Linked DNA regions of Homo sapiens: region 1 is linked to region 2. The links come from fine-mapping of genetic effects on gene expression. Tissue or cell type: whole blood. Region 2 holds a variant in brackets; the other region holds the start of a gene. All regions are shown on one strand. Distances are between the middles of the regions.

Region 1 (5,382 bases), 98 kb before region 2:
GTGGGTGGATCACATGGGGTCAGGAGTTACAGACCAGCCTGACCAACATGGTGAAAGCCCGTCTCTACTAAAAATACAAAAATTAGCCGGACGGGGTGGCACACACCTGTAGTCTCAGCTACTCGGGAGGCTGAGGCAGGAGAATCGCTTGAACCTGGGAGGTGGAGGTTGCAGTGAGCCAAGATCATGCCATTGCACTCCAGCCTGGGCAACAAGAGTGAAACTCTGTCTCAAACAAACAAACAAACTAGCTGGACATGGTGGCGGACGCCTGTAATCCCAGCTACTTGGGAGGCTGAGGCAGGAGAATCGCTTGAACCCAGGAGGCAGAGGTTGCAGTGAGCCGAGATCACGCCATTGTACTCCAGTCTGGGCGACGAGTGAAACTCCATCTCAAAAAAAAAAATTAGCTAGGCGTGATGGCGGGCACCTGTAATCCCAGGTACTCAGGAGGCTGATATGAGAGAATTGCTTGTATGCAGGAGGCAGAGGTTGCAGTGAGCCAAGATTGGACACAGCAAGACTTCATCTCAAAAAAAAAAATAGATCTCAAGGCAGCAGCTACCATGTAAAAAAAAAAAAAGATAATGAATCATTCATATATACATTAACTAATTACTGATTATTAATACAACATATATCGAATACTTATTATGTGCCAGGAAGAATTATAAATGATCATCTGTTAGGAACCCATTTAATTCTACTAACATCCCAATGACCTAGACATTACTTTTACTTAACATTTGAGGAAACTTTGGCACAGAAAGGTTAATTAATTTGCTTAAAACCACACAAGTAGTAAGGCAGGAAACAGGGTTTCCAGGTGTTTAGGATATAGACAAAAATAAGACAATACATGTATTTGCCCTTATGGAGTTGATAAACATATTTAATTTGCTCTCCAATTAACGAAAGTATATTCAGTGAGCACCTATTCTCAGTACTGGCCCAGATGCATTATTATTGTACTAAATTATCTGCACTATTATTATGCACTAAATTATCTCTTCACAATCAGTCTTTCTAAAAGGAAGATTTTTATATTAAAACAAAAAGCCACTGGAAAAGGAAGTAAGTTTGAATACAAGCAAACAAAAACAGAAAGTAAAGCAGAAATACAGTTTAGCAAGCCACATGTTGAAAAGCACTAAGCAGTAAGTATTGTGATTTCTTTTTTTTTTTTTCTTAGACGGAGTTTCGCTCTTGTTGCCCAGGCTGGAGTGCAATGGCGCATCTCAGCTCACTGCAACCTCTGCCCCCCAGGTTCAAGTGATTCTCCTGCCTCAGCCTCCCAAGTAGCTGGGATTACAGATGCCTGCCACCACACTCGGCTAATTTTTTGTATTTTTAGTAGAGATGGGGTTTCACCATTTTGGATAGGCTGGTCTTGAACTCCAGACCTCAGGTGATCCACCCACCTCGGCCTCCCAAAGTGCTGGGATTACAGGCATGAGCCACTGGGCCCGGACTTTTCACCACCGATGACTTTGTAATTCACTCAAAAACCTATTACAAAGTTAGGAGTTACAGGACAATTACAATTTAGTAACTGCTGTGGCTGGCAACAGTTACTTACATAACGGGTGATGTGAAAGGTCCCAAGAGCAAACTCAGTAAGGTCACACAGAATATATCTTTCCCTCCTTCATCTACTAGAGGGAATATATTTTTCCCTCTTCCTTCTACTCTCATTTTTCCTCACCAGTCACCTCCCAGACAAAAAGCAGCCAGTGTTACTTCCTGGGAGTAAAGCTGGCAACGATACCCACTAATTAAGCATTCAGATGTCCCGCAAGGGTAGAACAGGCAGAGGTCAAGTGGAATGCAGAATATTCTCAGGACTCAGGAGCCAAATTACGTTTCAAGTAACTCTAGGACCAGGGCAGAGAGATGGCTGTTAGAGAGAAGCACGAGATTGAAGAGAAAGGAAAAATGTATTAGATTTCACTTAGCGTATGATAAGACTATGGTATAGTGGGAAAAGCTATGAGCTGGAAGGACCCTCTGTCATTATCAGCCTTGTAGTCTTGTCAAGCCTTGTCACCTCACTAGTCTCCATCTACTCACCTCCAAATTAACGGGAATTAAGTAGATTGGATTTCTGAGTTCTGACTAGGGGGGCTCCAGGAAGCCGCAACTACCCACTCTCCCGGCAGAAAGTCACCAGCAGCTGCGCGTTTGGGAGCATAGTCGGCACAGGACTTTTCCCCGAAGCACAGGAGCCAGCGGCTACAGCCACTAGGCAGTCCACTTGCAAACGCAGGTTGTGCCCGGGTTCTCTTTCTTTGGCTGCAGGTCTTCAGGTGTTATGGGCCTAACTCTTCCGCTACAAGTGTCCCTCCCGCAAAAAATGGGTCCGGGGGACCTGCACACCCTCAGAGCCCTCGTCCACAGCCCCACACTCAACAACAATGTCAGGTGCTTACGCGGAGATCTCCTTCCCGTTCAGGATTTCTGCTGGCGCCATGGCCTTTATTAGTCCGCTGCCCACGATGGACACCACCAATATCGAGGTTCCACTCCCTCCGCAGCCAAGCAGGACAACCCAACCCACGTGCTTAGGGACTGGCCAGGGGATCACACTACTGCGCCTGCGCCCCTGCCCGCTTCTCCCCCTGCAGACGCGGTGGCGCATGCGCAGTTCGGAAGGACCCGAGTCCCTTAACTAACCGAGAGCTAACAGGTCGGGGACTGCGGGACGGAAGAGGGAGGGGAAGATGAAGAAAATCGGTGATGAATGGCTGGCGGAAATGATTGGCGGAAAGAAAGAGCCAGTTCACAGTGCGCCTTTGTATTCGGCGGGAAACCCGGCCGAAGAGGGAGCTGGAAAGGACTCCGGAATCCGGCCGTAATTCCAGCCAATCAGGGAGTAGAGTTGCGGGGCGGGGTTGGGGCGGGGCAGTCTCGCGGGAGATAGTTTCGCGGGTTCGGGAGGCGAGTCTCCGGTTTCCGCCCAGTCTCTGGGGACGCGGTGGCGGGGTCTGAATCGCCTGGCTTCCAGGGAGTTTTGGGCGGGTCCCCGCACGGGAGCGTGGCAGGCGCTGGACTCGACAGCAGATGTGGAACTGGAGAGCTTGGCGCGCCCTCATACTTTGTCACACACCTACGCCACCAGACTGGGGTCGGGCCCCTCCGCGTTCTGCTCTGGAGGGCCTGGGTCTGGGCCCAGCATAGCGCTTTTAGAATCTCCTCAGCTGAATCTGACGCTCAGCCGTAGGTGAAGCTTAGCCCGCTGTTTCAGGCCCCGCCGATCTGGAAGGAGTGTCAGAGCTGGAGCGCGCGTGGCCTCATCGGTGTTGGGGTCACCCCGGGGTTGCCAGGGCTCATGGAGGGTCGTAGTCTGGATTTTGTCACCCCCACGTCCCCGCCCCGCAGCAAGTCTGGGGTTGGAGAACTCACGCGGTCTTCGTAAGCTACATGCCAGTTGACCCTCGAGGAGGGATGCTCCCTCCCCTTAAGCGTCCACGCTGGAGAAGGAGTAAGATGGACAATTGCCTGGGGAGCCTGACAGGGCGGTGGCAGCTGGGATGCTGGAGAGGACTGGCCCCTTGTGTTACTGAGTCCAAGGAATATGCTTGCTCTGCTCTAGGAACCGCGTTCAGGTTACAGTCATCCCAGTAGAGTCCTGAAGATGCGTGGTTCAGGTCACTTAGGACTTGACCAGATACCGGGTTTCTTTTACAAGCCGTTTACTACTGGCAGAGCTCATCTAAAACTTTTTTTGTTTGTTTGTTTGAGACGGAGTCTCATTCTGTCGCCCAGGCTGGAGTGCAGTGGCACGATTTTGGCTCACTGCAACCTCCGCTTCCCGGGTTCAAGCAGTTCTCTGCCTCAGCCTCCCGAGTAGCTGGGATTACAGGCACCACCTAATTAGCCCGCCACCACGCCCGGCTAATTTTTGTATTTTTAGTAGAGACGGGGTTTCACCATCTTGGCTAGGCTGGTCTTGAACTCCTGACCTCGTGATCCACCCGCCTCGGCCTCCCAGAGTGCTGGGATTACAGGCGTGAGCCACCGCACCTGGCCTAAAACTGATTTTTTATTAATTTTGGGGCTTTTAATATTTTTTTCTTATTTCTAAATTCTGAGGTTATTTATAGTAGCCCCATATACGGGATTAGATAATCTCTTGTGATTTTCTATTTCTGGTAATTATTTCTAATATATGTTTTTTTGTTTTTGAGACGGAGTCTCGCTATGTCGCTCAGGGTGGAGTGCAGTGGCATGATCTCCGCTCTTTGTAGCCTCTGCCTCCCGGGTTCAAATGATCCTCCCACCTCAGCCCCCCGAGTAGCTTGGACCACAGGTGCATGCCACCACGCCGGCTAATTTTTCTATTTTTGGTAGAGTTGGGGTTTCACTATGTTGACCAGACTGGTCTAGATCTCAAGGGATTAGTCTCCCTTGGCCTCCCAAAATGCTGGGATAATGGGCATGAGCCACCGTGCGTGGCCTTAAAGTTACTATTCTTAAAGTTTGCACAAGTGATATGTTAAAGGCACAGACTTAGTAATATAATGTCATTATAATAATAACCCTAAAACACATTGTCTCATATTGTGTTGTACCTAAACAAGTGAAATTAAGAAGAAAATTGAAGGAAATGTTTCTGGTAAATTGCAGATAGTGAATCTTTTGTCTTATACTATCAAATAGGTATTGACTATTCCAGCTTTCTTATTTGTTGAGGAAGATGGCAGAAATCCCGTTTTACAGAGGGATAGACTTTGAAGGATAATACCCAAAGCTGCATAGCTGTGGCTGGTATAGGCCCCAAACCTGATGTTTCTTCTCTAAATCTACTGCCTTTGCCATCTCAACAGCCTGGTTTTTGACAGTTATCTATGTATGAGTTGCATAAATCGTTCATTCATGGAGCAAATAATTATTGAGTGGCCACTATGCCAACAGCACTGCTATAGATGCTAGAGATACCCTAGTGAACCAGCAAAGTTTCTGCTCTCAGCTCATATTCTGGTGGAGGAGACAACGATCAAGTTAAAGAAATACATAGGCTAATTTTAGAGATTATGACATGCTATATTTTAAAAATAGGCAAGCTAAGAGGATAGGCAGTGATGCTGGGAGGTGGGAAAGTTTTGTCTCAGAAATGTGGTAAGAGATTTCTTTGGGCATCTGACTTCAGCAGAAACCTTAATGAAGAGAGGAACTTGGAATGTAAAAGAAAGAAAGCAGGGATTTGCTCTGAGCAACTGGAAAGATGGAATTGCCATTCGCTGAGTTGAAATAAAGTAAAATGTAGGACTAGGTTTTGGGGTTAAGATTATGAATTCGGCTTTAGACATTTTTAGATTTCTCTTAGACATCCAAATGGAGAGAAGATATTTAAATCCATGGGATTGAATGAGATCCAACCAA
Region 2 (5,382 bases):
TGAGGGGAAACATGTTTGTAATTTAAAAAGTGAACATGTGAAAGGAAAGGCTTTTCTGAGAGTGTTGTAAAACAAATGTAACGTGACTATGAAAAGAACATGATTAACATCTTTGACTCCTATTTTTTCTGAAGAAAATGTATTTTGATATGAGTTCTAGAAGAAGGAAACTATAAGGATCTGTTCATCAACAGGCATTAGAGTATACACCGTAGGATTGCATTTTACGTTCAAGCATTTTTTTAGATGAATTTCTGAAACATTCTTATTTTAAAAGCCATCAGATGCTTGTTAACACTTAAGTCTTGCTCAAGACATAGAAGTTTCTGAAATCAATTAACATGTTTAGGACACATTTCGTAGTGTTCTGAGGGATGTGAATAAATCTAATCACAGTTTACATTTCTTAATGTATTTATAATTCAGAAAAGGTAGAATTTAGTAGTAAATTCAACTCATAACCATATAATTAACATTTAATAGATATTGATATGTTCACTTTTAAGAATAAGAAGGAAATTTTCTATAAGTGTATGTTGAACACATAATAATTCAAAATTCATGTGATAATTTTAGGTGATGCTTTGAGTCGTTTTATAGAATATAAATATGGATAAAATATAAAATACTGAAGGCTGAACTCAAAGTGTTTAATGATAAGTTTTTGATAATACATCTAGAAACCTTGAGAATTGTATGCTTGAACGTTAGATTTCATAATTCAGTGTCTAGCACATTGTTTTATATGCAATAGCACTTTAAAAAAATTAGGCTACAGCAGTATAATTTACATACAGTAAAATTTAGCCTCTGTAAATGTACCTCTATGAATTCTGACAGATGCACAGTCATGTAACCAGCACCGCACACATGACACAGAACAGTTCCATTACCCCAAAAGTCCCCTTTGTACCTCTACCTACCCCACTGCCCCTGAAAATCACTGATCAAAACTACATAATGATTATGTGGTTTTGCTCTTTAGTACGTTTTTACTTAGACATATTTTCCTTTACTTCTTTTGAAAGAAAAACCTGTTTTTCCCTTTTTATAGGATGAGTCAGTTTGTGCTATTTTTAATTCTAGTACCTTGGGATAAATCAAGGCAAAGACAATGCTATTTGCAAATGGGAAACTTGAGACTTGGACTAAGTGTTAAATTCATATAGGGCTAATAGATTTAGTTCTTAGCAGATTTAGATTCTATTGTGGTTTAAGCCTTTGGTTATGGCATATATCATTAGTTATCCTGAATTGAAATACAAGGCCATTAAAAGTTATTTATATCATATTAATAGAATGCATCATTCTTTTATAATCTTTGAATTTTAAAACTTCTTTATTAAAAAAAAAACTACTTTTCATTATACCTGAGATTAAGAAAGCTACCTGAAATTGCATATTATCAAATAGTGAGAAGCAAAACAGGGATTGAAAATGACAAATTGAAGACATTTAAAATGCAGAGTGATTACAATTGCTGAAGGTAAAATATTTATCTTCATAGGGGCTTAGGTCTGTGTCCAACTTATTTGTAGATGTCAGGATTTTTAAATTTCTGTGCTCATGTCTTGAAGTCTAGATTTTCCTGCAGGGTGGAGATGTATAACCTTTTGTAAACTAATATTTTTCACTGTTTAACACAGTATTCAATTCAGTATACAGTTAGGAGCCTGTTATTGGTAGGTACTGCTAACATATATATATATAAAATTGATGTCTTTTTCCTTTTTCCTTTGTTCTATGAAAAACAGCCTGTATTTTAAATATGTAACTTACCTTGCATACCCAGTTACAGTGGTAGTAACTAGGATATGCAGAGTGGCAAGTTTATGAGGAGCTAGCAAACTGGATAGTTGGCCTTCCTAGCTGGAATTATGACAGGTCTTGAAAATGAAGGGCTTTTAGTGGAGAATCTTTGTGTGGGTGTACTTGAGAGAGGGCAGGAGAGTTAGGGTGACCTAGAAAGATAGATTGCTGGACTTGTATATGTTTCCTCAAAGCCAGACTGCAGCATTTTGTTAGTAAATTGTTGTGTGTTCTACTGTCAAACCCAGGCCTGGAAGGGGAGTTGAGTGCATTCAGCCTAACTTCTGGATTGGCTGTGTCATCTTGAATCCCTTCACTCGGAATTCTCTCTGACCCTGTCCCAAATGAATATTTGAATTTGGTCCAGTTCCTACAGAGCATGGTCTGTGGCTGTTGTTGGTGTTAGGGAAGAGCAGAAACTTGCTGTTGAGAGAGAAGACACTTGAGAAGACTGATGAACTCTCTCCCACCCCTGCCTTCGAGGCTTGGTCCTCCTACCCTATTCAAACCCTTGAAACTCTTTCCTATCCAACTAAATAAGCGCCAATTGGTTACTAGGAGAATTAGCTTTTCCTCATTTTAGAAGGAAACAGGGTTTCCTTATGTACATGTTCTTAAGAATTACATGCAAATCAGTTATTAATGATGAGTTCTCTGGTGATTTTGGAGTGTTTTATCTTCCTAATATTAAATTAATTGAGGGCCTTAATATTTTGTTTTGAAAGAATATATTTAAAAAGGCTGGGTGTGGTGGCTCACGCCTGTAATCTCAGCACTTTGGGAGGCCTAGGTGGCTGGATCACTTGAGGGCAGGAGTTCAAGACCAGCCTGGCCAAATAATGAAACCTTGTCTCTGTTAAGAATACAAAAAATTAGCTGGCCATGGTGGCTCAAGCCTGTAGTCCCAGCTACTCAGGAGGCTGAGGCATGAGAATTGCTTGAACCTGGGAGGCCGAGTTTACAGTGAGCCGCGATCATGCCACTGCATTCCAGCCTGGGCAACAAAGCAAAACTCT[A/G]TCTCTAAATAAATAAATAAATAAATAAATAAGAATACATTTAAAGATAATAATTGGCCAGGTGTGGTGGTTCATGCCTGTGATCACAGCACTTTGGGAGGCCGAGGTGGGAGGATTGCTTGAGGCAAGGAGTTCAAGATCAATCTGGGCAACACAGTGAGACCCTATCTCTACAAAAATTTAAAAATCAGCTGGGCATGATGGTGCATGCCTTTAGTCCCAGCTACTTGGGGGGCTGAGTTTGGAGGATCCCTTGAGCCCAGGAGATCAAGGCTGCAGTAGGCCATGATCTTGCCACTACACTCTAGCCTGAGTTACAGAGCTAGAGTATAACCCCCACCCCCCAAAAAAGCTAATAATTGTCAAACAGCTACTTATGCACATCAAGGATGCTTGTTGCTTAAGAAATCTTTTTAAATCTTTTCCATGAAATTCCTTCTAGTTGCTGCTTTGTGAGCGTGAATTTTTTACTTCTGCAGGACACACAAATGTGGAGCATTTGAACTGAATGCTTGGGAAAGTGTGATGGGCAGGTGGAAGAAGAATAGGGATGAGGACTTATCCTCTATTCTTATCCTCCTAGACTTATCCTCCTAGTCTGCAAGCTTGAGAATATGGCATCAGGAATATGTGGCATTTTGTCCACACACACAGTGTTGGCAGGCTACCAGCAGCCCAGCTATCTGGACTAGGGGTGATGGATTTCTGTGGACAGAAGTCAAAAAGTAAAATTAGGAGGCAAAAATCTTCAGGGTGGCCATAAAGACATTGTAACTTGTCTGGAAATTCCAACCAACACTAAATGTGTATCCAGTGATATACCAATAGACTGGCTTCATCTTCTTGGATGTGTAATAATACCTTACAGAATGCTTTCTTTTTTTTTTTCTTTTTCTTTTTCTTTATTTTTTTTGAAATGAAGTTTTGCTCTTGTTGCCCAGGCTGGAGTGTAATGGCACAATCTCAGCTCACTGCAACCTCCACCTCCCAGGTTCAAGCGATTGTCCTGCCTCATCCTCCCGAGTAGCTGGGATTACAGGCATGTGCCACCATGCCCGGCTAATTTTGTATTTTTAGTAGAGACGGGGTTTCTCCATGTTGGTTAGGCTGGTCTCAAACTCCCGACCTCAGGTGATCTGCCCACCTTGGCCTCCCAAAGTGCTGGGGTTACAGGCGTGAGCCACTGCGCCCGGCCTCAGAATCCTTTCACAGACATCATCTCATTTCACCCTCAGAGCACCGTGAAAAGGTACAGCACCAAATAGGTACCTGATTCTACTGAAGAAGATGTGGCAGCTCAGGGAGTTTGTGGATTTGTCTAAGATTGCCTGGCTTTCAGGCAGAGCTGGGGCTAGAATGAATGTTCTGCTCTATCCATTGATAGAATATACATAAGAACAGGCTTGATGGTGGCTGACCTTTTTTTTTTTTTTTTTTTTGAGACAGAGTTTTGCTCTTGTCACCTAGGTTGGAGTGCAGTGGCGTGATCTCGGCTCACCGCAACCTCCACCTCCTGGGTTCAAGCGATTCTCCTGCCTCAGCCTTCTGAGTAGCTGGGTTTACAGGCAAGCGCTGCCACACCCGGCTAATTTTGTATTTTTAGTAGAGACTGGGTTTCTCCATGTTGGCCAGGCTGGTCCCGAACTCCTGATTTCAGGTGATCTGCCCACCTTGGCCTCTCAAAGTGCTGGGATTACAGGCATGAGCCACCCGCGCCCGGGTGACTGATTTCTTATTAACTAGATTTACAGGTGCTTTGATAAAAACCAGTCTAGTCTTGGCTGGCACGGTGGCTCATGCCTGTAATCCCAGCACTTTGGGAGCCCAAGGCGGGCGGGTCACGAGGTCAAGAGATCAAGACCATCCTGGCTAACATGGTGAAACCCCGTCTCTACTAAAAAATAGAAAAAATTAGCTGGGCATGGTGGCGGGCACCTGTAGTCCCAGCTACTTGAGAGGCTGAGGCAGGAGAATGGCTGAACCCGGGAGGTGGAGCTTGCAGTGAGCCAAGATTGCACCACTGCACTCCAGCCTGGGCAACAGAGCAAGACTCCATCTCAAAAAAAAAAAAAAAAAAGTGTAGTCTTTTTGGAGTGTTTTTCTGCCATTTCTAGGGCCAAACTTTTTCTTGTCCATGAATCATTGTCAAAATTGGGAATTTTAAATACTACTTTTTTCTTTTAATTCAAAAGCCATAGTATGTTTCCCAGCCAGTACATTAGAACACCATGCACGATCCCATGTGTACAAAAAGCTTTCTGGCTGAATTCAGATGTGACCTGAGAGGGCCAAATACAGGGGTGTGTGCTGGGAGAGAGAGAGAGGTCTCTGGACAGAAAACAAAGCCTGTTCACCACCCAGGATATGGACCAACTATTTTAGGTTATGGTGACTAAAGAAAATTGACATGCAAATAAATGAATAATTCTTAGAATCAGGATGTCTGGGTACTGGTTCTTTGGTTGGCCAGGTGAAATTCCATGCCAGGCCCAACAATTAAACTCTTTAGAGACAATTTTTTCCTGTTGTACCAGAACATTGTACTGAGGCCATGTTT

Evidence for each region. PIP is the estimated chance that this variant, and not a neighbour inherited with it, causes the effect.
Region 1: MTHFD1 starts here. The variant in region 2 is fine-mapped to the expression of MTHFD1 in whole blood (TOPMed, PIP above 0.99).

Annotation. Positions count from the first base shown.
Region 1 is chr14:64,385,516-64,390,897 of GRCh38, reverse strand. It overlaps MTHFD1 (methylenetetrahydrofolate dehydrogenase, cyclohydrolase and formyltetrahydrofolate synthetase 1), which reads right to left and starts at 2,545. Exons shown (of 28, transcript NM_005956.4): 1 at 2,430-2,545. The coding sequence starts at 2,470. RefSeq lists enhancers at 2,693-2,782, 3,303-3,362, 3,383-3,482.
Region 2 is chr14:64,287,869-64,293,250 of GRCh38, reverse strand. All of the region lies in intron 1 of ESR2 (estrogen receptor 2), which reads left to right. Among named protein-coding and RNA genes, the nearest start is that of ESR2, 3.8 kb to the left of the region's middle. The variant A/G (reference allele first, on the strand shown) is at 2,826.